Linked DNA regions of Homo sapiens. The protein of the gene in region 2 purifies or fractionates together with the protein of the main gene of each other region. This does not show direct contact. Each region holds a gene or a part of one and is shown on either strand. Other genes may lie near its edges. The genes, in order: CLPTM1, SLC44A1, ANGEL1, ERICH5, TRIM13, LRRC8D and TSPAN10.

The links.
Region 1: the proteins of SLC44A1 (region 2) and CLPTM1 purify together in Homo sapiens (affinity purification with mass spectrometry; one large-scale study listed by BioGRID and IntAct). This does not show direct contact.
Region 3: the proteins of SLC44A1 (region 2) and ANGEL1 purify together in Homo sapiens (affinity purification with mass spectrometry; one large-scale study listed by BioGRID and IntAct). This does not show direct contact.
Region 4: the proteins of SLC44A1 (region 2) and ERICH5 purify together in Homo sapiens (affinity purification with mass spectrometry; one large-scale study listed by BioGRID and IntAct). This does not show direct contact.
Region 5: the proteins of SLC44A1 (region 2) and TRIM13 purify together in Homo sapiens (affinity purification with mass spectrometry; one large-scale study listed by BioGRID and IntAct). This does not show direct contact.
Region 6: the proteins of SLC44A1 (region 2) and LRRC8D purify together in Homo sapiens (affinity purification with mass spectrometry; one large-scale study listed by BioGRID and IntAct). This does not show direct contact.
Region 7: the proteins of SLC44A1 (region 2) and TSPAN10 purify together in Homo sapiens (affinity purification with mass spectrometry; one large-scale study listed by BioGRID and IntAct). This does not show direct contact.

What each region holds. Positions count from the first base shown.
Region 1 is NC_000019.10:44,954,049-44,958,179, forward strand, and holds the start of CLPTM1 (putative lipid scramblase CLPTM1), read left to right. Parts: upstream 1-1,331; 5' UTR 1,332-1,347; coding exon 1,348-1,419; intron 1,420-4,131. UniProt on the Homo sapiens protein: Involved in GABAergic but not glutamatergic transmission. Binds and traps GABAA receptors in the endoplasmic reticulum (ER).
Region 2 is NC_000009.12:105,394,651-105,397,846, forward strand, and holds the end of SLC44A1 (choline transporter-like protein 1), read left to right. Parts: 3' UTR 1-2,696; downstream 2,697-3,196.
Region 3 is NC_000014.9:76,788,883-76,792,382, forward strand, and holds part of ANGEL1 (protein angel homolog 1), read right to left. Parts: intron 2,485-3,500; coding exon 2,415-2,484; intron 1,893-2,414; coding exon 1,729-1,892; intron 507-1,728; coding exon 346-506; 3' UTR 1-345.
Region 4 is NC_000008.11:98,088,568-98,091,338, reverse strand, and holds part of ERICH5 (glutamate-rich protein 5), read right to left. Parts: intron 2,264-2,771; coding exon 1,310-2,263; intron 1-1,309.
Region 5 is NC_000013.11:50,014,042-50,016,504, reverse strand, and holds part of TRIM13 (E3 ubiquitin-protein ligase TRIM13), read right to left. Parts: 3' UTR 1,012-2,463; coding exon of another isoform or gene 434-1,011; 3' UTR 1-433. Other genes in the region: KCNRG (potassium channel regulatory protein), read right to left, coding at 434-1,011. UniProt on the Homo sapiens protein: Endoplasmic reticulum (ER) membrane anchored E3 ligase involved in the retrotranslocation and turnover of membrane and secretory proteins from the ER through a set of processes named ER-associated degradation (ERAD).
Region 6 is NC_000001.11:89,824,032-89,827,531, forward strand, and holds part of LRRC8D (volume-regulated anion channel subunit LRRC8D), read left to right. Parts: intron 1-3,500. UniProt on the Homo sapiens protein: Non-essential component of the volume-regulated anion channel (VRAC, also named VSOAC channel), an anion channel required to maintain a constant cell volume in response to extracellular or intracellular osmotic changes.
Region 7 is NC_000017.11:81,643,696-81,647,195, reverse strand, and holds part of TSPAN10 (tetraspanin-10), read right to left. Parts: intron 2,205-3,500; coding exon 1,567-2,204; intron 1-1,566. UniProt on the Homo sapiens protein: Part of TspanC8 subgroup, composed of 6 members that interact with the transmembrane metalloprotease ADAM10.

The DNA.
Region 1 (4,131 bases), on a different chromosome or scaffold from region 2:
CGATTATATCCCTGGTTTATAAAAGGGGAGAAACTGAGGCTCAAACATAGATGTCACTTGTCACCAGCCTGGCCAACACGGTGAAACTCCGTCTCTACTTACAAAAAAAAAAAAAAAATGGGAGGCTGACGCAGGAGAATTGCTTGAATCCGGGAGGCAGAGGTTGCAGTGAGCCGAGATCGCGCCACTGCACTCCAGCCTGGGTGACAGAGCGAGACTCCGTCTCAAAAAAAAAAAAAAAATTAGCCAGGAGTGGTGGCGTGCTCCTGTAATCCCAGCTACTCGGGAGGCCGAGGATGCAGTGAGCCGAGGTTGCAGTGAGCCGAGATCGCGCCATTGCACTCCAGCCTGGGGGAGAGTGAGGCTCCGTCTAAAAAAGAAAAAAAAAGAGAGAGAGAGACGTCACTTGTCCAGGATATCTTATCCAGTCAGTAGCACCACAAGGGTTAGAACCCTGGCCAGACATCCACCCAATTTCACGGGTGAACAGTTAACAGCCTCTGAGAGTCTTGTCCTCTCTGGGCCTCCGTAACACCCTCTCCAAACTAAGGGTCTCTCAGCAGATGGCCGGGTTTAGAGCTGTACGAAGACACACAGCTAATGAAAAATTGTGGAATTCTCAGAGCCCGTGAAGCCTAGCCCACGGATGCGAGGTTTGGACCACTGAGGGAACGCGCATGCGTGCTAGGCAGGGCAGTCCGAAGGCTTGGGGGTGTATCATAGGGTCTCATCGGAGGTTTGTTGGCCGTAAGACCCCTGGAATTGGAACTCTAAAAACACAGAAAGGATATGAGCTCAGGAGACTTGAACGAAAGAGTTGTCTTAGGAAGAGGGGTCAGAAGACAAGGGTGCTGGGCAAAAGGCTAGTTCTTCGAATCAGAATACGGTGGCCAGAAAGGTTCCTCTGACGAAAGAGGGGCGTGGTTCGAAGCCGTACAGTGGCCGGTAAAGCTCAAGAAACATGGAACGAAAAGGACGCGAAGAATCGGCAGGGAGAAGCGGACAGGATGTCCCGAAAGGCTCATATAACCGAAAAGGCGGGTTAATGTGAAGGGACGGAAGGGACAGAACTTGCGGGAGGCACATGCTGGCCGAGAAAGTCCTGGAGTTCGGAGCATACAGTGTTTTTATTAGGTGGAAACAAACGGGCTGGGAGAAAGACGAGTACGGTGGCCAGGTTGGTCCTTCCATAGCCGGAAGTGGCCTTCCTGAGAGGCGTGGCTGCGGCACTCTTGCCGGATAGGGTGGCCCGGCGGGGCTAGGAAAGCGTGAAATCTCGCGCGATTGCGCTGCGAAGTCGGGGACGGGGCGGGGCTGGCGGCGGGGGCGGGGACCCGGAGCGGGAAGATGGCGGCGGCGCAGGAGGCGGACGGGGCCCGCAGCGCCGTGGTGGCGGCCGGGGGAGGCAGCTCCGGTCAGGTACGGAGGCCGAGAGGGGACTGAGGGGGTTCTTCCCCAGCCGGGGGGCCTCCCACGGGGCGTGTCCTACCTCTTGTCACGGAATCCCGTGCACTGGGGGCTCCTTGGCCAGAGGGACCTTGAATACCCGGCCCAGGCAGGGCCGGACCGCCCGGGAGGCCGGACGGTGCCGGGAACAGGGCCCTGTTGCGGGTCGGTTCCCCTGCACGCTCGAGCCGGGCGGCCACCAGGCTCATTGCTCGATCCGGGGAGACAGTGGCTCGGAGGGGCGCAGGCTTGTACCTTGGCGCGCTGGGTTCTCAACTCCGCGATTCCATGCTCTGAGGCCGTTCCTAGAGTGGTCTGGCGTTCAGGTCTCGTTGTAGTGTTTGAGGTGTGCGCAGTGATTAATTGGGAGTTTTCTAGCTGTGGGGAAGTCAGTATTAGCAGGGCACGGCCGACAGACCCATTTTACAGACGGGAATTCAAGGAACAGTGAGACTAAGGCGCTTCTAGAAGGTCATCCTGGTTAGGTTTGTAACTTTATGTAGAAGTTACAAGACACTGCTGACACAGGGACTGGTATGGTTGTGGTTTTAATGTAAAATAGTTCTATGGGTTAATTAGTCCTGGTGCGGATGACTTCTGCCCCACTGCTGTCTTAACACACTGCAGAGCATACCATTTCAGGCAGCTACCGTTCAGGCATTTGGGGAATAGATGGAGAGACATGAAGGTGCTGTCGACCCACCCACTGGGATGTCACTGACATGTGGGAGGCAGCTCAGGGGAAAGGAGTGCGGGTTGAGAGGGGAGAATGAAGCTGACTCTCTGTGTGACCTTGGGCAAGTTCCTTTCCCTCTTTAGGCCTTTATCTCTCCCGTGTTAAATGCAGAGGTTGGACAGGAGGGCCAGCCATATCCCTGCTGTCAGGGGACGAAGAGAGGAGACTGACATGTAAACAGTTGTAATCCTGAATGATTAGGTTGGTGACAAAAGTCTGTGTCAGGGACTGGGGGAGCCCAGAGAAAGAGCAAGTGGTATCACTTGGGTAGGACACATGGATGAAATTTGTGTGATAGAGCCCACTGTATCTGCTCTGAATCTTTTCAGCATTCTCAGCCAGGGCCTGGCTTCAGGGACAGCTTAGGAAATGTTTGTTGAGTTAGTGCTGGAATGAAGGCTCAGTTCCTGTCTTCAAGGGTTTCCCAGTCTTGCTGAAAGGAGGTCGTTTCCCCTCTGGGTTTCTGTTGATTATTGGGTTGATGGTGGCTTGAGAGACCAGGGCCCAGGTTGTTCTCATTGCCCTGAGCTTCCAGATGGCACTCTGATCTTCTCTTGTACCAACTCTGCTTAAAAACAATCAAGAGTTACCCCTTTGCCTTTAGGACAAAGTACAAATTCTTTAATAAATCACAGTCTTGCACGATCCGACACTTTTCTTCAGACTAGACTAGGATTTCTCGAGCTCGGCACTATCAACATTTTGAATTGGATAATGCTTTGTTTGGGGGGCTGCCCTGTGCATTTTAGGATGTTTAGCAGCATCCGTGGCCTCTACGCACTAGATGTCAGTAGGATCCACGCCCCTCCCCAGTTGTGACAACCATATATGTCTCCAGACATTGCCAAATGTTCCAAGAGCAGGGGGGCAAAGCCATCCCTGCGTGAGAACAACTGCGCTAAAGGGGATCCGCTGCTCTGAACCTATTTTATTTCTAAACCTCTTTTATTGCCTCTCAGTCTCTTTCCTCATAGTCTATGCACAGGTCTCTCCCCTCTTTAGCTAGTTGATGTGTATTAGTCCTACAGATTTCAGATGTCCCTTCCTGCAGAAAGCCCTCTTTGACTGTCTGGGCTCCGCTGTCCCAGCCCTGCCCTACTGGGTTTCACTGTCTGGGGACTGGGAACCCCAGGAGGGCAGAGCCAGGACTGCCTTGATCACCACTGCTTCCTTAGCACCACTCAGCTCAGCGCCAGGCACAGAGGAGGTGCTCAGTGTTTGTGGAATGAGCGGATCTTGAAACAGAGGCTGGGCTGAGGTGGAATTCCCTGATGCCGTGGTGGATCCAGGTAATCAGTGAAGACATGCCGCAAAACCTAGCTTCCTCCTGCTCTTGCCTAGCCCTGGTGGTCTCAGCTACTTCTTGGACCCTTTAGCAGATGTTGCTGGGGATTGTGTGTGTGCGTGGACGTGCAGATCCGAGAGCAGGAACTGTGTCTTAGTCACTGATGTGTCCACAGCCACTGCCACCCTTCTCCCATGCCCAGGGCCTAGTGCACAGCAGGCACACCCTCTGCACAGTCTGCTGCTTTAGCTAGCCTGCTCCTGTAGCCAGGAACTCGGACACAGAACCCACAGCTTTGCCATTCCTTCCTTCAGCGAATGCGAATTGAGTCTACTCCATGCTAGGCCTTTGCTGATGCTGGAGATACAGCTGTGAATAAAATAGGTGCTGCCCTCTTGAAGGCCCTTACACTTATGTTCTAGTTGGAGCTGAATTTATAGGGGAAGCACAGACAGGGACACACAGTGAACAAGATAAATAAGAAAAACAGCAGTTCAGATGGCTCTGCGTGCCATGGACAGAAATAAAGCTGGGATGGGGATAGGAAGTGAGGGGTGGGTAGAAGAGTTGCAATTAAATAGGGTAGTCTAGAAGGCCTCTCTGAGGAGGTGACGCTTGAACAAAGACCTGAAGGAAGTGAGAGAGGGAGTCCCAAAGATACACG
Region 2 (3,196 bases):
CTTAAAATATATTTGTCAACATGTCCAGTTCCAACAACAGTTGAAGATGATGATAAATTAGCAAACTCAAGGGTAGTCCATAGTTGGCAAAAAATAAATTTGGTAGAAAGTTGGAGGAGCAGATGCTGAAGGTAGAAATGCAAAAGATGTTTTTTCTTCCTGCATAAATCACGGAGGTGTGTTCTGTTTTAGTGTTTTCCAGTCACCCACTAGAGCAGCTTCAGATTCCTCTGCCAATAGAACTCCACCCCCAGTCCCTTACCTACTCTATCTTCTTTAGGGAAGCATGTGGATTTCTTCACATCTGCACCTTACTATTAGGTAAGGGTGCTGCATCTACATGGAAGGCTCCCTGGGCCCTTGAAAAAGCAGGCAGAAACTCATCAAGGGGTTTGAAGTTCTTGTGAAATTTGATCCCAGTGGCTCATGACTTATAGTCAGGCATCAAACCATTTCCTACTTTTTCAGGCTGAAGAAAGTGGAAATATAACTGGCTGGTGAAGAAAGGAGAAAAGTCAGCCCCCTACCCCACCCCACACTCCTAGAAAAGTTTGGGGGTTTTTTTTGTTTGTTTTTGGTGTTTTTTTGAGACGGAGTCTCGCTCTATCGCCAGCTTAGAGTGCAGTGGCTCAATCTTAGCTCACTGCAACCTCCACCTCCCAGGTTCAAGTGATTCTCCTGCATCAGCCTCCTGAGTAGCTGGGACCACAGGCATGTGCCACCACACCCAGCTAATTTTTGTATTTTTAGTAGAGACGGGGTTTCACCACGTTGGCCAGGCCAATCTCGAACTCCTGACCTCAGGTGATCCACCCGCCTCAGCCTCCCAAAGTGCTGGGATTACAGGCATGAGCCACCGCGCCCGGCCTAGAAGAGTTTTAATGAACCTTCCACAGTAGTAAATGCAGAGACCACTGGTGGAAATTCCCATGTTGGATAGAAAAGGGCGTAAGTCCAGTCTAAGTATCTAAATGTGATATGCCCTTTTGTCACAGAAGTGTAAGACTTAAAGGGAATATTCTGACCTTCGTGTATGAATCTGATCCACCCATCCTGTCAGCTAGGATTATAATTTGAACTGTCGTTTCAGGAGCATGTGTTAAATCATATGAGTAAAAAAAAAGTAGACATTGAAAAGAAGACTTGGGAATAATTGGGCAGATAGAATGGGTTCCATGGATCATTCTAGTTGCCACTAGAAAATGTGAGCTCCTTCTTCATTTACCATGTTGATAATCCGGTGGTGACTTTTTTTTTTTTTTTGTAAATTGTATTAGATACCCCACAGGAATGTGACAATAATAGGATAGCTTTGGGGGCTGGTGATTTGAAACAGGGACTATTAAGTAGATTTTCCCCCATCCTCTAGGTTCCTGTAGTCTGTGCTCAGAACTTGGTTTTTGGCCCCTATTGTTTTTGCCTATTTTGATTTTCAGAGATGATCACATGGGGACAGTTAACTTTTCTTCTGCTGTGTTGCCTTAATGCTACTAGATTGTGTTGTGTTGTTGGAGTTTTCTGACTTCTTCCCTATAAAAAGATACTGAGAGCTCCATAATGAAAGAAGTTGTTATACTTTCTCAGAATATTCTGGACCACTGAATGCACTTCTAATAGAGCTTTAATCTAAAGAAGTTAGTTCAGTGGTTATTAACTGATTTTATTACAGGAGAAAAAAACTTTAACAAAAAGGCAGGGAGAAAAGTGTGAAGGGCATCAAGCAAAATGACAGGGGCTTCAAAAAACAACCAAAGACAAAACCCTATCTTCTGAAGACCAAAGGTCCAACTTTACTTACTGGCTGGCACAGCCTTTCTGAACTCCTTGAGTTTAGAATAGAGCTCCTAGAATAATAAGGCGGCCAAATTTAAAGATCAGTCAATACAGTAGGGACCTGCTATTGATCTCTCAGGCACTGAGTCTTCACATCCAGTGTCAAGCCCAGCCCAGCATATGGGGTGATATGAGCAGAAAACACACATCGGTGTGTCTTGATTTCTCGCAGCTGTGTAATGTGGCATGAGAAGTATGTTTTGGTGCCACATATTTCTCAATCTGATGCCTTTTTGTCTTTTTTTTTTTTTGCCATTTGCATCCTATTTCATAGTGCCAAAATGAATTTTTGTATCTTGTCTTGTCTTTGTCCATTATAAACTGGAGGATCACAGTTAAGCCTTCCATGAATTCATAGTTTGGAATCATTTACCTTACCATTATTTTGGATTTTTTTCTTATTACAGTGTCACTACACTGTATTCATGTGGGGGAACAAACATGTAGGTGCTTGAACATGCCCCACAGACACAGTTGTAGCCCTAGTATTTGTGACGGTCATTATTGACACAGTGCAGACTTTGCAGATGGAGCATTATGCTCTCAGAGGACTTTAAAAATATGTATATTAAGCAATTAACTTTCTGGAGTTGGAGTTATCAAATCTTGCTGGGAAATTAACTTCCAAGAGCTCTGAATTGGATGGAATTCCATCTGGCTTCAGAGAACAATCAGCCTATATGAAACGGAGCTTTGAAATGTTTTTCTTGTGCAGAAATACGAACTAGAAAGAAAAGTGCTGATCTAATGCTAAGTTTTCTCTGTGTACTGACTCAGTTGCCAGAATTATAATGAAAACTGTATTTTAGTCTAACAAATGTATAGAATTTTTTATGTAATAAATAAAATTTTATAGGAAAGAATGTTATTGTCTACTGTGTTGTAACACTTCCCCATGCCCAGGGTGGTGACTGATAAAATCATGGGCAACATCTTCGTTTCAAATTAGGTCAGTATGCTGCAAGGGTGCCCCAGAATTTCCCAGCTGTTCCTTTCTGTCTCTCGCAGCATGTTCTGGGGGCTTCGGAATAGCAACTATAAATGTACCTAAACCAATTTCTGAAGTACAAAGTTCATCCACTGCCAGGCCAGGCTTCATAGCTGGAGTCTGAGTTGCCGCGTGAATGCTAAGATTGCAACTGAACTCAATCATCAGGCAGAGTAGAAAAGCCTCCACTGGGCCGGGCGTGGTGGCTCACGCCTGTAATCCCAGCACTTTGGGAGGCCGAGGCGGACAGATCACAAGATGAGGAGATCGAGACCATCCTGGCTAACACGGTGAAACCCCGTCTCTACTAAAAAAAATACAAAAAAATAAGCCGGGCGTGGTGGCGGGCGCCTGTAGTCCCAGCTACTCGGGAGA
Region 3 (3,500 bases), on a different chromosome or scaffold from region 2:
AAGCAAATAACCAATGAAATCAAGAACTCCCATAACCCTGGTAATTAAAAATCAAGGGGGAGCGCTGGATACATGGAAGGAAGGGGGAGCCCCCCTTCTGCCTCTCCCAGGGCCACTGAGTGTGTGGCACAGGATTAGGAAGAGGCTGGGGTGGGGCAAGGACCACAGGCAGAGAACGCAGCCAGGCCTGGAGAAAGTCTAACCGTGGGAAAAAGGGAACGAGGAGGGGGAAGGGAGGGGATGTAAGTTTCTTGGATCTAAGTTTCTAGATGCATGGGATTTTTCCACAGTCTCTGATCCAGTGAGCTCTTCTGGAAGAGAAGCTCTCTTCCCCTGGGAGCCCTGTCATGGGGCGGTGACTTCCATCCCGAAGCTGGCTAGCAGGCAGAGGTGGTCTGAAGAGCAGAAGGGGTTGGGTAAGCCATTGGCAGCCCAGAGTATCTCTTCAGAGAGAAGGGAGAGACGACCCAGGAGCTTGAGAGTTCCATCTCGATACAGCCTGTGATCTGGGGCACAAAGCAGAAGCCAATGGGTAAAAGCAGCCGCAGCCACACTGCATGGGCAGGCAGTGGCAGAGTCCTTTGGGAACGCCTTCTGCAGGCTGCATCCCCTTGGCTGCCCACTGCCCCTCACCTCCTCTTGCAGCATCTGGCTGAGGAGGCCCCATTTTCTCAGAGATACTCCATAATATCATCAACGAATAAAGACAGGTGAGTTCCGGGGAACTGGGGCAAGCTGGAGAGCCCACCATTATAAGATCTTTTGATTTTCCAAGAGAAGCTAGAGATCCAGCTTTTCTATATAAAATCTGATTTTTTTTTTTTTTTTTTTAGATGGAGTCTTACTTCGTTGTCCAGGCTGGAGTGCAGTGGCGCAATCTCAGCTCACTGCAACCTCTGACCCCCGGGTTCAAGCGATTCTCCTGCCTCAGCCTCCTGAGTAGCTGGGATTATAGGTACCCGCCACCATGCCTGGCTAATTTTTTTTTTTTTTTTTTTTAAGACGGAGTTTTACGCTTGTTGCCCAGGCTGGAGTGCAGTGGCACGATCTCGGCTCACTGTAACCTCTGCCTCCCGAGTTCAAGCGATTCTCCTGCCTCAGCCTCCCAAGCAGCTGGGATTACAGACACCGTCACCACACCCGGCTAATTTTTTGTATTTTTAGTAGAGACGGGGTTTCATCATGTGGCCAGGCTGGTCTCACTCCTAACCTCAAGTGATCTACCCACCTCGGCCTCCCAGAGTGCTGGGATTACCGGTGTGAACCAGTAATACACGTGCCTGGCCATAACAGTAATACACATGCCTGGCCAAAAAGAAACATTCTTTACACAATACAGGCATGGGGCTGGGAGATTGCTATACTGTGCCCACTGGTATGGGGAGAGGAGACAGAAAATAAGGTCTCTTACCTAACCAAGTCCCTCATTCAGTGGCTGTCATTAAACAAACTCAACCAATTCCTAGATCTCTATTTTTACCTCTAAAATGGGGATTGGGAGTGACTGTCCTACCCTCCTCTCTTTAATGCTGCAAGGGTAAAAAGAGACAAGGCAGGCAAGTGGCCTATGGGGAGAATGATAAGGATGACCAGTGCAAGGGAGGTATGAAATCTGCTCCTTTGCTGGTTAAATCCCAGCAGCTGAAGACATGCTACCAAATGCCTGACCTACCATTAGCTGTTCCCAGGGACCTGGGGGTGGAGGAACCCAGGATCCATCAGGCTTACCAGTTCTGTTCCCATTCTCACAGGACTCAGCTGAGAAGAAGATGTAATCTACTGTCATTCCAAGACCCAATGGCATTGTAGTGACCTCTGGGCGGCCACGCTGGGGCAGGAAGTGGGTATATACTGACGTCAGGTGGAGGCAGTGCTGGATGGTACCTACAGTCCTACAGGGATGAAGGGGGAAACATTAGTTAACAAAAATTACTAAATTTTCCCTAGATCACTTTTTCTATGGGTTTTATGAAGATTTTTTAAAAGGATGATCTCAGATGACTCAATCTCAGCCAATTCCTCCCCATGCTAAGAAGGGGCTGGCAGTCTTAGCTAAAATTAGCCTAGAAACACACATTTGTACTGAGACTCCCTAACACTCCTAATCCCCCACTATCTGCTTGTTACCTGGTAAAGTATCCCCAATGTACCCCTGTCTGGGGCCCAGGCCTCTTCTGTGAGGCTTTACCCTCTGAGGAAAGAGTACATAGCCTTTTCACCTGCAGTAACATGGGTGGGTCACCTCTGGCTTCTGCATACCTACATAACCCTCTATAAGTTTAGCAGATATTAGGGGAAAAAGAGCTTATCAAAAAGTGCTCCCCCAAGTCAACCTCAGGACAACCAATGGGAATCTCTCTCTTACACCTAGGCAAGGGCTGGATTGAAAACAGAAGAGAACTGGAGAAGGTTACCTGGAGAAGGCAGGCTCAAGCTCCGATGCATCTTCCTCAAGGACAGACTCAGCCCAACCCGCAGGTCGCTCTGCAGAGGACCAGAGAGAAAAACATTTTCTCATCCACAGACAGTGAAGCAGGATCAGAACCTTTCACCCTAAAATCCCTCTCAGATCCTTGACTGGATTGCTTCAGAAGGATCCAGAAGGAGAAAGGGAGAAACAGTGAGGAGGAGAAGATGACCATAAACCAAAGTCAAGAACCTCAGAAAGCAGATGTAGGGCATCTAACACAGACATTGTCTTCTGTGGCTCCTCACCTTTGTTTTTCTTTAATTTGATTAAAAAAAAATAAGTCATATAGTCACATGGTACAAAATCAAAATGTAGCAAAAAGTATCAGTGAAGTTTCCCTCTCACTTGTCCTCCTCTGCCACTCAATTCCCCTCTCCAGAAGCCACCAATGTTACCAAATTCCTGGTATATTCCTTCAAAGACTTTCTATTACATACCATCCATTGTGTGTGTCTATGCATGTATGCATACATGTATATATACATACATATTACATATATGTATACATCTATAAGCACACACACACATACATATCATACACACGAATGTTAAAAAAGGAAGATACAAATTACCAATATCAGGAAAGAAAGAAGGGACATTAGTACAGATCCTACCAACATTAACAGGATAATAAGGATCAGCAACAACAGTGACAAGCCCTTAGCTAGACCAAGAAAACAGAATACTCAAATTACTAAAATCAGAAATGAAAGAGGGGCCATCACCACCAACCATTTAGAAATAAAAAATAACTATAAGTGAATGCTATAAATAACTGGATACCAACAAATTGGATAACTTATATAAAATTGAAAAATTCCTAGAAAGACACAAACTATGCACAATAACTCAAGAAAAAACTGAAAATCTGAATAGGCCTATAATAAATAAAGAGATTGAATCTGTAATTTTAAAACATCCCACAAAGAAAACACCAGGCTCAATGGCTTCACTGGTGAATTCCAGCAAACATTTCAAGAGGAATTCATACAAATCCTTCACAAACACTTCCAAAAAAAAGAGGAGACAC
Region 4 (2,771 bases), on a different chromosome or scaffold from region 2:
GAGCCCCTTGAGGACAGAGACTATCTCTTCCTCAGTCTGCATCTCAGCACCTAGCATATGTTTAGGCATGCCAAAAAATGCTGAGTTAATAAATGAAAGAATTGGCCAGACATGGTGGCTCATGCCTGTAATCCCGGCACTTTGGGAGGCCGAGGCGGGTGGATCATGAGGTCAGGAGCTGGAGACCAGCCTGGCCAATGTGGTGAAACCCCGTCTCTACTAAAAATACAAAAACTAGCCGGGCATGGTGGTGTGCGCCTGTAGTCCCAGCTACTCAGGAGGCTGAGGCGGGAGAATCGCTTGAACGCAGAAGGTGGAGGTTGCAGTGAGCCGAGATCACTTCACTGCACTCCAGCCTGGGCAACAGAGCAAGACTCCATCTCAAAAAATAAATAAATTAATTAAATAAAATAAATAAATGAAAGAATTAAACAAAAACAGATGGATGATTATAATGAATGCTTCACTTAAGTATACTGAACTGTGAAGCTAAAATTTACCAAAATGTAAATCATACCCCAGAAGAAAATATTTTTTTAAATTATAACACCAATAAAGAACACTGTAAACATCATTTGTTTTATGCTGGTAAAATACAGTTAAAATTTTAAAACACCATATGCTAAGACATAGTACATTTTCTCTGGTCTTCTCATACAGATTTTAAAACTGCAGAAGAACAAGAGCAGACTGACAGTCATTTTCTTTTTCCTTTTTTCTTTCTTTTTTTTTTTTTTTCTGGAGAACAAGGTCTCACTATGTTGCCCAGGCAGGTCATGAACTGCTGGGCTCAAGCTATCCTCCCACCTCTGCCTCCTGAAGTGCTGGGATTACAGGTGTGAGCCACTGCACCCTGTCCTGACAGTCATTTTCTAAGATAAGCTTCACAAAGATGAAAATAACATTCTAAGATCCATTATGTATATATCATTTCATTGGAAGGTGAATTCCTCCAGTAATCATCTATTCACCTTTACTTTGGATCCTGATTTCATACATGGGGCCTGATGAAGTGTCAACTTGGAAAAATTCAGAAAGTTTCACATGTTGCCTTCAATGTTAGACACTATTTAAACACTAGGTTAAAATTTTGGACAGAGATGATGTTTCGGAAAAGTTTTGCTGACAAACTGAGCATTAATAGAATGCCTCTTTCCCAGGCACAGAAGCCTTTTTGGTTTGGTCAAACGAACTTCAACCACCTGAAAGTGACTTCAGGGACTGTGTGTCAGTCACCCCATCCCACTCCCCAGAGCTGGTCTCCTATGGAGCACATCTAAACATCCAGGTTTGCCAGCATAACTTTTACCTTCAATGCGTTGGTCCTCTTCATTAGTATGGATGTTCCTGATCATTTCCACATATGCTCCTGCCTCTACATTTCGTGCTGGATGCTCCATGCTTCCAACTATTCCTTCAGGTTGAATCTGCTCCATGTTTCCTGGACCTTCAGGAGTTTTATGGAATGGATCATTCATAACAGGCTTTTCCACAAGCTGACTTCTGTCCAATACTTCTGGTGTTACATTCTCTTTGGGAATTCTTTCTAGAAGCTGGGGCTGCTCCTCTTTTCCCAATGTTGCCTGAAGTTGCTGCTCTTCAGCTGTTTCCACAAACTGACTTCCTTCCAATATTTCTGGAGATTCATTCTCTTTGGAAATTGTTTCTAGAAGCGGGGCCTGCTCATCCTTTCCCACTGTGCCCTGAGGTTGTAGCTCTCCAGCTATTTGCAGAGTCAGAACGTTCTCAGTTGTTCCTAGAGGCTTCATCTCTGCAGCAGTTTGTGGATTCTCAGTGACCTCCACTGCTCTGAGAGAGTCCTTCTCTACTGCTGCCTGCAAAGGCTGACCCTTGGCTTCTGGTCCTAAAGGCTGAGCTTCAGCATTTCCTTTTAGAGACTCGGCCTCTGTCCCTGCTCCTGCATCTTTCTTCTTTCCTTCTGCTGCTGGGGCATCCTCTTTGCCACCTGGTTGAGGCGGCCCAGATTCCTCCAGTCCCTCTCCAGGCTGAGTCTTTTCTGTGGACCCTGATTGGTCTGTGGCATCCCTTCCAGGGGCTACGTCCTTGGCCAGGGGCTGTTCTTGGAGGGGTTTAACACCATTAGCTGTAGGCTCTGCTGAAACCTTGAGCTTTTGTAAGGGAGGACGGCTTTCCCTTTGTACATTGCCATCAACAGTAGATTCTCTTCCCAGTGCATGTGGCTTTGGTTGGGCAAAGCAGGACTCACTTTCTTCTGCAGTTGAAAAATGCTCATTTGAAGTTACTTTGGTTATTCATTTGAAAAAGAAAAAGAAAAGAGAAAACACAAATTATTGTTTAGTTTTATCTTGAAAAGTGAATTGACATCACAAAGTAGATTTAACAGTTCAAGACAGTTCCAAATATATCTGAGTACAGAAAGGCCATACCATGACCCTAACACTCTCCCAGTCAAATCCCTTTATTGTCTTCAGCTCAAACATTTAATCTTAAGCGCTGAAGTCCTCCAAAACCACAGTTTTCTCCTGTTTGCTCCTTGTGCATCTTTTCATGGCTCCTGTCCCAGATTCTAACTGAGCTTACTCTGTTTCTCTCTTCTTTTCCTTGTCTCACACTTTCTCCTCTTGAGACTTAGAAGGTTTCCTTTTTAAAAAATTTTTTTTCCATTTTTGTTTTGGCGGGGAGGGCAATAGAAGATTCCCAAACTTAGAAGGTTTCATGATGCGAGGTCCTTGGGCTGCTAGAGAGGTCTTACTTTCCTTCTAACACAGGAAAGCCCCCAGCAAATGGAA
Region 5 (2,463 bases), on a different chromosome or scaffold from region 2:
ATCATAAAACTGAAAGAACAACTTATATAGTGTGTAAGGAACTCAAGAGAAACCAGTGAGCGAGCCTTTATGTGAACCACTGAAACAATCTCTTAAAAATAAGGCAATTCTTTTCTAAGTCAAATTCATTAGCAATGGAACATAATCTACAAAATTATTTTCTCCCATGATTTGAATGTCCATAGTCTCAGTTTTTTCTGGGCAGTCTTCATTTATTCCTTTTGTCCCACCTAATAATAGCCCCTTTCACTCTAAAAAGTATCCCAGTTTGGAAAATAATTATTTGGTCATTCTACCCAACTCCACTGGTTACCCCAAAACATTATTTTGAATAATCATCTTTTCCAGAAGTTACAGGCCTGAGGAACTTCAAGTTTTTAGAGAAAACATCACAAACTGGTATACAAGAGAAATACTGCAAAGTACAAAATACCTGACTCCAGTTTGGTTATCAGTAGTGCTGTCAGAACCACACTGGAAAACCAGGTCATGGTAAGAAGGTCTTTGTGGAGGCAGTGGAAGTAAGGTCATCTGAGGAGGGAAAAAGTTACCATTCCAGGTCGGCGCTGAAGGTTGTTCTGTAAACACTGTAATCCTCCCTGTTAGCATCTCAATTGTTTTGCTGCAAGAGCCAAACACCCTGAAAAAAGCTTGAGTGTTCCGGCTTAGGAAATGTACCTCCACAAGAGCAGGTCTTGGCTGTAGCAGGTATGGGTTTAAGAGATCAACTAGAGAACGAAGTTCATAGAAAAGAGCCTCTCTCTGAAGCCTAAGATAGTCTGAAAATTCAGTGGGTAATAAAAGCTGGTGAGTTCTCAAAAAATCTAAGATGAAACTAAACAAATCACCATCTCTGTCTACAAAAATCTGGCCACCAACCATCTTGAATTCTTGGTCTCTGCCATCTAACATGCGTGCCAAACGAGAAGCAGGAAACTGCTTTATCGTAGAAAACCTTGTCGTGAATATCTTCCCTCCCACATTCAAAGTGACCAGTTCCTGACTACTCATTCTTCCCTCACTTCAAACTAGAGGCTACCATCAGCCACACTTAGGAAATCAACCTATAACCATAAATGTTGCTAGTTATACATGATTATGCAGTGGAGGGGAGGGAAGAATAACAAAAACCAGACTTAGATTCCCAGGAAACTACTGTAAGGTAAATAGTGTATCCATGGCTGTGTTTGCAAATTCGAGTTGCCTGGGAACTTGCAGTATACAAAATGAAAAAGCAACAGATGAGGAACTAAATAGCTTAAGGAAAACTGCCAATATATCTGAAGATAGACATCAAATAGATCCCTTTCCTGTCTTACATTTAAAAACTTATCCATGAAAACCTAGTAAAACTATATATATATATATATATATATATATATATATATATATATATATATATATATATATTTTTTTTTTTTTTTTTTTTATTACTGGGAGGGGAAAAGCATTCTCCCTCCCCATACCTGTCTACCACGCAGAGGCTAGACTTAAACGTTTTTCTTAATTTCTTATGATCTCCTTAGAAATTTAGTGGCTAAATCATGAATTACATGTTAGGAATGAGACAGCCTGGCAAGCTCAATTTGACTATTCTCATAGCTAGAAGGAAATCATTTCTTCTGTGCTTTAAATTTAGTTGCCACCTTTTATCCTGTCCCCATTTTCATTACCTCCTCTCAACCAAATTAGAGGAGGACTGAGGTAAAGAACTCTTATTTTCAGAAAGTCTATTCCACTTAATGGGCTTTCAAGGAATATCTTACTCTATGACACAAATAAGGCAGACTAGAGAGCAGTTATAAGGTTACTTCTTTGTTATATGAATTCTAAGCAAGGTGTTTATTCCATGAGAGGGTATCTTTATCTCTTGTGAGCAGACAGAACAGCATTAGTGTTCAGCTGATTACTTTGTAATAGCTGACAGACTGTTTTATCTGTTGTCAAATTAGTCTTAACTACACTAAACATTCTTTCTGTAAGCAAGTGGATTGGTTTGGTTGTACACTTGCCATCTTTCGAACAAAACAACACATAGCTGCCAGAAAAAAGGTAGTCTTCCCATTTCCTGCTCTTGCCATGTGTTCTATATATACATATATATGTATATATATGTATGTGTACATATGTGTGTGTGTGTGTGTATATATATATATATATTTTTTTTTTTTTTTTTTTTTTTTTTTTTTTTGGTAGAGACTGGGTCTTGCTATGTTTACGAAGCTGGTTTCGAACTGGAACTCCTAGCCTCAAATAATCCTCCCACATCACTGTCCTAGAATGCTGAGATTATAGACATGAGCCACCCTGCCCAGCCAGCTGATCCTTTTTTTTAACCTATCTATGCTTTTGCTTGCATAGCCACTTAACATTTCTAGTTGATCATCTTTGGTGAAAACTACAAAAACAAAGGAGAAAAGGGCAGATTGAAAGCTCCACTCTCCTAAAAATGTAAACTTATCA
Region 6 (3,500 bases), on a different chromosome or scaffold from region 2:
CAGCAGACATTGAGGAATGTCGGAGACATTTATGGTTATCATAGCGAGGTGGCAGGTGCTGCTGTCATCTAGTGGCTAGAGGACAGGGATGATACATAAGCATCCTACTGTGCACAGGACATCAACCCCCTTCCTCCTAAACAAAGAATGATCCTGTCCAAAATGGCGATAGTGCCTGCCCTTAGATCTCAGAATAGGTCTTGAAGGGAGGTGGTTCTTGACATGGGAGGAGTAATAACATTGAGCTTAGGAAGCTGATGTAGGAGACTTGTGCTCAGGTCTGATGTGATTAGGGTCTGGGCAAATCCTTATTGAAAGAAAGGGGCAGTTTGGAGGGAGATCATAGCAGATGAGCACAGTATGATAGTGGAGTAAGTTGGGAATCATTGAAATCAGAATTGGCATTTTAGAGGGGCCCTATCCAATTTATTTATTTTAGTAAATTCTTACCCTTTCTAGGTAACTTTTGTTTAACCCCAGGAACCGTGAACTTCTCCTGAAGACAGGTTATTACACCTTTGGACTGTTTGTTGTATTTTTACTTGAGCTGAAGACTGTCTCCTTGAATTTTTTTTTCCAATGATTTTCTTCTTTTGGAGCTGCCTACTCTCTTTGAATGCACCAAGACAATATGATGTCCCCTTACCCCCAGTTGACTTTGCTAATGCAAACTAGTCCCAATTCTTTTCACAGTCTTTTATTGGGATGTGGTTTCTCGATGTCTTCTCAGTTTATCGGCATCTCACATGGAGAATCTGGAATTGAATATGTAATTGAGATGTGATCTGGCCAACAGAGAGTACAGTAAGACAGCTGTTTGCTGAGACCTAAGCATAAATGTCTACTTACTGCACCTTAAGCTTACAACTGCCTATGATTTTCTTAGGCAGTGCCGAGCACAAACTTCTTTATTAGATAATCATGTTTTGGATAGTCAAAACCCCCAGATATTTGCTCTGTGAGCTGCTGCATCCTGTATTTCTTGGGCAGATTTTTTTGGAGAAGTTTTTTTTGTTGTTGTTGTTCCTTCTCAATGTTATCCTATTTATTTTGATCCAGTCTTCTAGCCTTTGACATTTTTGAATTTATGTCTTCTAATTATATCAGAGAGGAATGGAGGATGACTTTGTTGAAAACTGTAGTCAGTACTATGTAAAACTCAGTAGTTTGGGGGCTCTATTGGTCCTATATGAGAGCTGAGATCACTGAGTGATGGAGGTGAGTTCTAGGGCTAATTAGCCCTTATTTTGGGGGCTTCTGAGAAATTTAAATGCCAGGCCACATGGCATTTAGCTCTTGAAATGTTTGCACCTGGGGTACCATTTTGAAATTGTTCAAGTCTGTTGCAAGCTTCTGAAATCTGAATTCCTTCCTCTGGGTCTTTGTAGTTCTGTTTATGTATCTGGAAGAGAGTTTCTAATGTTTTGTGCAAATCTGAAGCTTGCAGGGTTAGAGTTGCTTTTGAAATTTGTGAGAAGATAGGATAACTGGCAAAAATCAACTATGGACTTGTTTCCCACTCAGGCTAAGCTTTGTTTTCTTTTTTGCTAATATGCCTCAAATATTTAGTGACAGCCTTATATTTAGAGAAGGAGAGAGGATTGAGGTTTAGAAGCAAACCTTTTTCTCAGAGCTTGGCTTTAACTTGCCGTTGATGTAAGTTCATACTTAACTTGAATTTTACAGTCTTCACTACAAAGACATTAGGAAATTACCATTCCCAGATGTCTTCTGAAGCTGGCAGGTAAGAAATCCCAGGTACCTTAGTGCCAAGTTCTCCAAATACTCTAGATCTATCCAGTGAACTAGATTTAATAAATTACTTGATTTGGGTGGTAGCTGTCTCACAGTGTTGAAGGAGAGCTAGAGGAAAATTTCAAATCTCATGGCCAAATGTGTGTCACCTCTTTGTGATGAGTGTCCATTGTGCCCCAATCCTTTGTTAGTGTGTTGGCTGTCCAGATGGTGCAGTCTACTTGGTTTCCCTTCTTTACCAGTCCACGTGGGCAACCTCTTTATATCCTCTGGAGATGAAGGATATTCCAATGAAAAGAAGGGATGCCTTTTGAATATTTGAAATTTCTTGAGGGGAAAAGTGTTGCTGTCCTTTTATATTGTCAAAGGCTGTGTCGAAGTTGGAGTCTTAGAATTAAGGATGCAGTTGTGTCACTTTGAATAGAAAGAATATTATAGCTGGAAGGGATCAACCCTTAAATTTTATTTTATTTTATTTTATTTTATTTTATTTTTTTAGACGGAGTCTCGCTCTGTCGCCCAGGCTGGAGTGCAGTGGCGCGATCTCAGCTCACTGCAAGCTCCGCCTCCCGGGTTCACGCCATTCTCCTGCCTCAGCCTCCCGAGTAGCTGGGACTACAGGCACCCGCCACTGCACACAGCTAATTTTTTGTATTTTTAGTAGAGATGGGGTTTCACCATGGTCTCGATCTCCTGACCTCATGATCCGCCCGCCTCGGCCTCCCAAAGTGCTGGGATTACAGGCATGAGCCACCGCGCCTGGCTACCCTTAAATTTTATAGTTGAGCGTATCCAGGCACAGGGAGGTGATGTGCTTAGCGTAAGTTTACACATGTAGTGACAGAGTAGGCATTAGAATCTATCTGCCTTAAAGACCACAATAAAGGCTAAGGATCAGGATTTCTTCTCTGCTTAGAGGTGTGTAAACAGTGGGGTCCCTCGGGTCTTATTTACATAATTGATCTAAAAGAAGGAACACACAGTGGAATTTCTAGGTTTGCAGATGACAGCTTTTCTGGATTATGAAATGTCTAACCACTGGGTATTTGCTCCAGGGAAACCACACTAGGATGTATTAGTCATCAGACGATTTGCAGGTGAGTTTCTTGTGGGCAAATAGGTGGTTGGGTATTAAGGGGAAATTACAGAATTTTCATAGGATGGTGTTTTGTTGGATAAACTCAGGGAAGGGCTCTGAAAATACCTTCATGTTGTTGTCCTGACTTGCTGTTGCAGAAAAACAAAAACCATGAAATGCTAGGCTTCATCAAAAAGATTTTGGGGCTGGGCATGGTGGCTCAGGCCTGTAATCCCAGCAGTTTGGGAGGCTGAGGTGGGCAGATCACCTAAGGTCAGGAATTCGAGACCAGCCTGGCCAACCTGGTGAAACCCCGTCTCTACTAAAAATAAAAAAATTAGCCAGATGTGGTGGTGGTGCCTGTAATCCCAGCTACTCGGGAAGTTGAGGCAGGAGAATCACTTGAACTCAAGAGGCGGAGTTTGCAGTGAGCTGAGATCGCGCCATTGCACTCCAGCCTGGGCAACAGAGACTGTCTCAAAAAAAAAAAAAAAAAAGATTTTGGGGAAAAAAATACAAAATATAGTCTTAATTGAGTTTTCACTGTGTTTTTTCCCCCAAATTCGTGGGCACCTAACCTTCAGAAAGACACTAGAGCTGGAATGACCATTGTAATGATACCTACCTAGAATGTTTGGACATTGCTGCTAGAATGTAAGCTTCATGA
Region 7 (3,500 bases), on a different chromosome or scaffold from region 2:
AACCCAGTCACACGTGGCCAAAAACCAACCTATGTGGTGCTTTGCAGAGTCTGGAAGGACCCGCCTGTTAGCCACTGCTGGGTCCCAATGGCCAGTTTTCAGGGTTGCCTATGACTTCATCTCTTGTGTTCAGCTGCTCCTGGATACATGCACCAAGAAGGCTTGGGAGACAGAGTGCATATCGTCTGTCCTGGGTGTGGCATGGAGAGTAGGTGCTGCTTGGGGTGTGCATGCACTGGGGATAGCTGATAAAACAGACAGCTACCCTCTTTACAGTGAGCCGAGATCGAGCCACTGCACTCCAGCCTGGGCGAGAGGGAGACTCCGTCTCAAAAAAACAAACAAACAAACCAACAAAAAGACAGCTACCCTTGAGCAGAATATAAGAAAATCCTGCACTGGATCCTAAATGCACGGCGTTTAATGACACTCACGGTGGAGGGAAACTGTGGAGTCAGATTCCAGAATAATGTCCTGAATTCACCTAAAAGTCATTTTCTTTTCTTTTTTTTTTTTGAGACAGAGTCTCCCTCCATCGCCCAGGCTGGAGTGCAGTGGGGCGATCTCGGCTCACTGCAAGCTCCGCCTCCTGGGTTCACGCCATTCTCCTGCCTCAGCCTCCTGAGTAGCTGGGACTATAGGCGCCCGCCACCACACCCAGCTAATTTTTTCTATTTTTTAGTAGAGACGGGGTTTCATCGTGTTAGCCAGAATGGTCTTGATCTCCTGACCTCGTGATCCGCCCGCCTCGGCCTCCCAAAGTGCTAGGATTACAGGCGTGAGCTACCGCGCCCGGCCTTTTTTCTTTGAGATGGATGCTCGCTCTGTTGCCCATGCTGGAATGCAGTGGTGCTGTTTTGGCTGCAACCTCCACCTCCTGGATTCAAGTCATTCTCCTGCCTCGGCCTCCTGAGTAGCTGGGATTACAGGTGCCTGCCACCATGCCTGGCTAATTTTTGTATTTTTAGTAGAGATGGGGTTTCACCATGTTGGCCAGGCTGGTCTTGAACTCCTGACTTCAGGTGATCCGCCTACCTCAGCCTCCCAAAGTGCTGGGATTACAGGTGTGAGCCATCGTGCCCAGCAGAAAAATGACTTTCTAAGTTTGTGGGCTCAGCTTCTCAACTAAGCTCCTGGGTAGTCCTCCTGGCCCTGGCGGGGGGAACAGAGTCACCCTGCACGTTCTGGGGGCCGCAGGGCTGATTGGGGCCCTGAGCCCATAGAACAAGGAGAGGCAAGCACCCCTATACCTTGTGTGCATGACACGTGTGTGTATGAACATGTTTGAGTGTGAGTGTGTGCCTGAGTGTGAGGCTGTTTTGTGTGTGCACAAGAACATGTTCATGTCAGTGTAGAGGAGTGTGTAGGTGTGTGTCCACACACGTGAAACCTGTGAGCACGAGACGTGCCAGTGTGGATATGCGTGTACATGTGGGTATACGTGTGCATGCATGTGGGCATGCACGAATGAGTATGTACGTGTGAGTGACTGTGTGTACACGCACAAGGGTGTGTGGCCTCTGCGACCCTGTGGTGGCCCTGTCCCTCGCCCACTCCAAGACTCACAGGTTCTGCTGCCAGTCCTGGTAGGAGGCAGCTCCGCAGCACCTCAGCCCGAGCTGGACTTGGTCGAGGAGGAAGCGCAGGTCTGGGTCGTCCTGGTAGTGGGCGATGGCCACACGCAGGGTGTGCTCCAGGCTGTCTTGCAGCGGGCCCCAGAGGGCCACCACCAGGGCCCCCGCCACGGCCTCAAGCACCAGGAAGGCAAGGATGCCCCCAGAGAAGCCACGTAACAGGCAGGTGTTCTCACAGAGGGCGCCCAGGTAGCCAGCCAGGCTCACTGCGCTGACCACCAGCCCTCCCAGTGCCAGCCCCAGCATGGGGTCTGCGGGCAGGGGCCCCCCCAGATCACTTCCCAGAGACCCCTTGACAGCCAGGCCCCAGAGCCCGATGGCCAGGGCCAGCAGCCCCAGCAGGGAGAAGGGGAAGTTGGAGAGGAAGATCAGATACTTGACGCAGCTGCTCCCTGGGGAGAGGGAAGGGGCTGGTCCTTTCTTGGGGGTGCCACTCAAGGCCTGGTGCTTGGTCTCCGGGGGACAGCAGCTGCAGCCCCAGGCCTCCGCCTGGTCCTCCCTGGGCACTGGACCTAGGCAGCCTGAGGTGGGTGGCCTGTGCACAGAGAGGGGCTTCTGGCCTGCAGTTTCCTGCAGAGGGAAGAGGAACAGGGTGAGACCGCATTCACCCAGACTCTGTGACAACTGGTGAGGGGTCAGGGAAGAGCATGGTGGCAGAGCCTTCGAGGGATGGGAGGATGCCGGATGGCGGAGGGCAGCACTGGAGCTCAGAGATGCGGACAGCCAGGGGCAGGGGGCCCTCAGGGCCGTCCCGCTCGGCTGAGCAGCAGAAGGGGCAGTGAGGGTCCCAGCTCTGGTGGGACCCCACCTTTAGAACAGGGTGATGAGCAGACTCTGAAAGGCTGTGGTGAAGACCAAGCAGGGCGGTGCTCAGTGAACACACCCACTCCCTCCTGGTCCTATGCGTGGGTGTCTGCGGCCTCCCCGGGTCAGGGTCGCCCTGGCTTTCCCGCAGCACACAGGCGGGGCTGCGTCCCCAGAGTTTGAAACAGCATCTGCGTGGATCAGTCTGTGTGTGCCTGCAGCATGGAACTTGTGTAGAGGGGCTTCCTCACCAGCCACAGGGGCTGGCCCACATGGCTGCCCTTTTCTTTCCCCTCTGAAACCAGTCCTCACATCCCAGCACCCATTCTTCGGCCCCACCAACGGCCCGCACTGAGTGTGGACACGGCACTGGACCCTGCTGCCGAGGACAGGACAGTGCCCTGCCCAACAGGCTCCCAGGACAGGGAGGAGGGTGCCCAAGAGCCCAGGAAGACCGCCTGGAGGCTGCAGGGCCTTCAGAGGGGACCCCCTGGCCCACTGGCAGGAAAGGCTTGCTGGTCTCTCTCTGTGGGGGAAGAGGCAGCCCCGCAGGTGCCCAGTTCTGCCGGGAAGAGTTTTTTTAAAAAGGAGAATAAGAAGCTATGGCCGGGCTGGACGTTGTGGCTCACGCCTGTCATCCCAGCACTTTGGGAGGCTGAGGTGGGTGGATCACCTGAGGTCGGGAATTCGAGACCAGCCTGAGCAACGTGGAGAAACCTCATCTCTACTAAAAAAAAAAAAAAAAAAAAAATTAGCCGGGCGTGGTGGCACACACCTGTAATCCCAGCTACTTGGGAGGCTGAGGCAGGAGAATCGCTTGAACCCAGGAGGTGGAGGTTGCATGAGCAGGAGGCAGAGGTTGCATGAGCAGAGATCGCGTGACTGCACTCCAGCCTGGGTGACAGAGCGAGACTCCATCTCAAAAACTAAATAAATAATAAAAAGCAGCCATGGCTGTGTGCTGGGCAAGGATCCCATTCCAATCCAGTTTCACCAGGAAGAAGCTGATCACAGCATCAGGCTCTCAGCTCACTGCAGCCTCAAACTCCTGGGCTCAAGCCA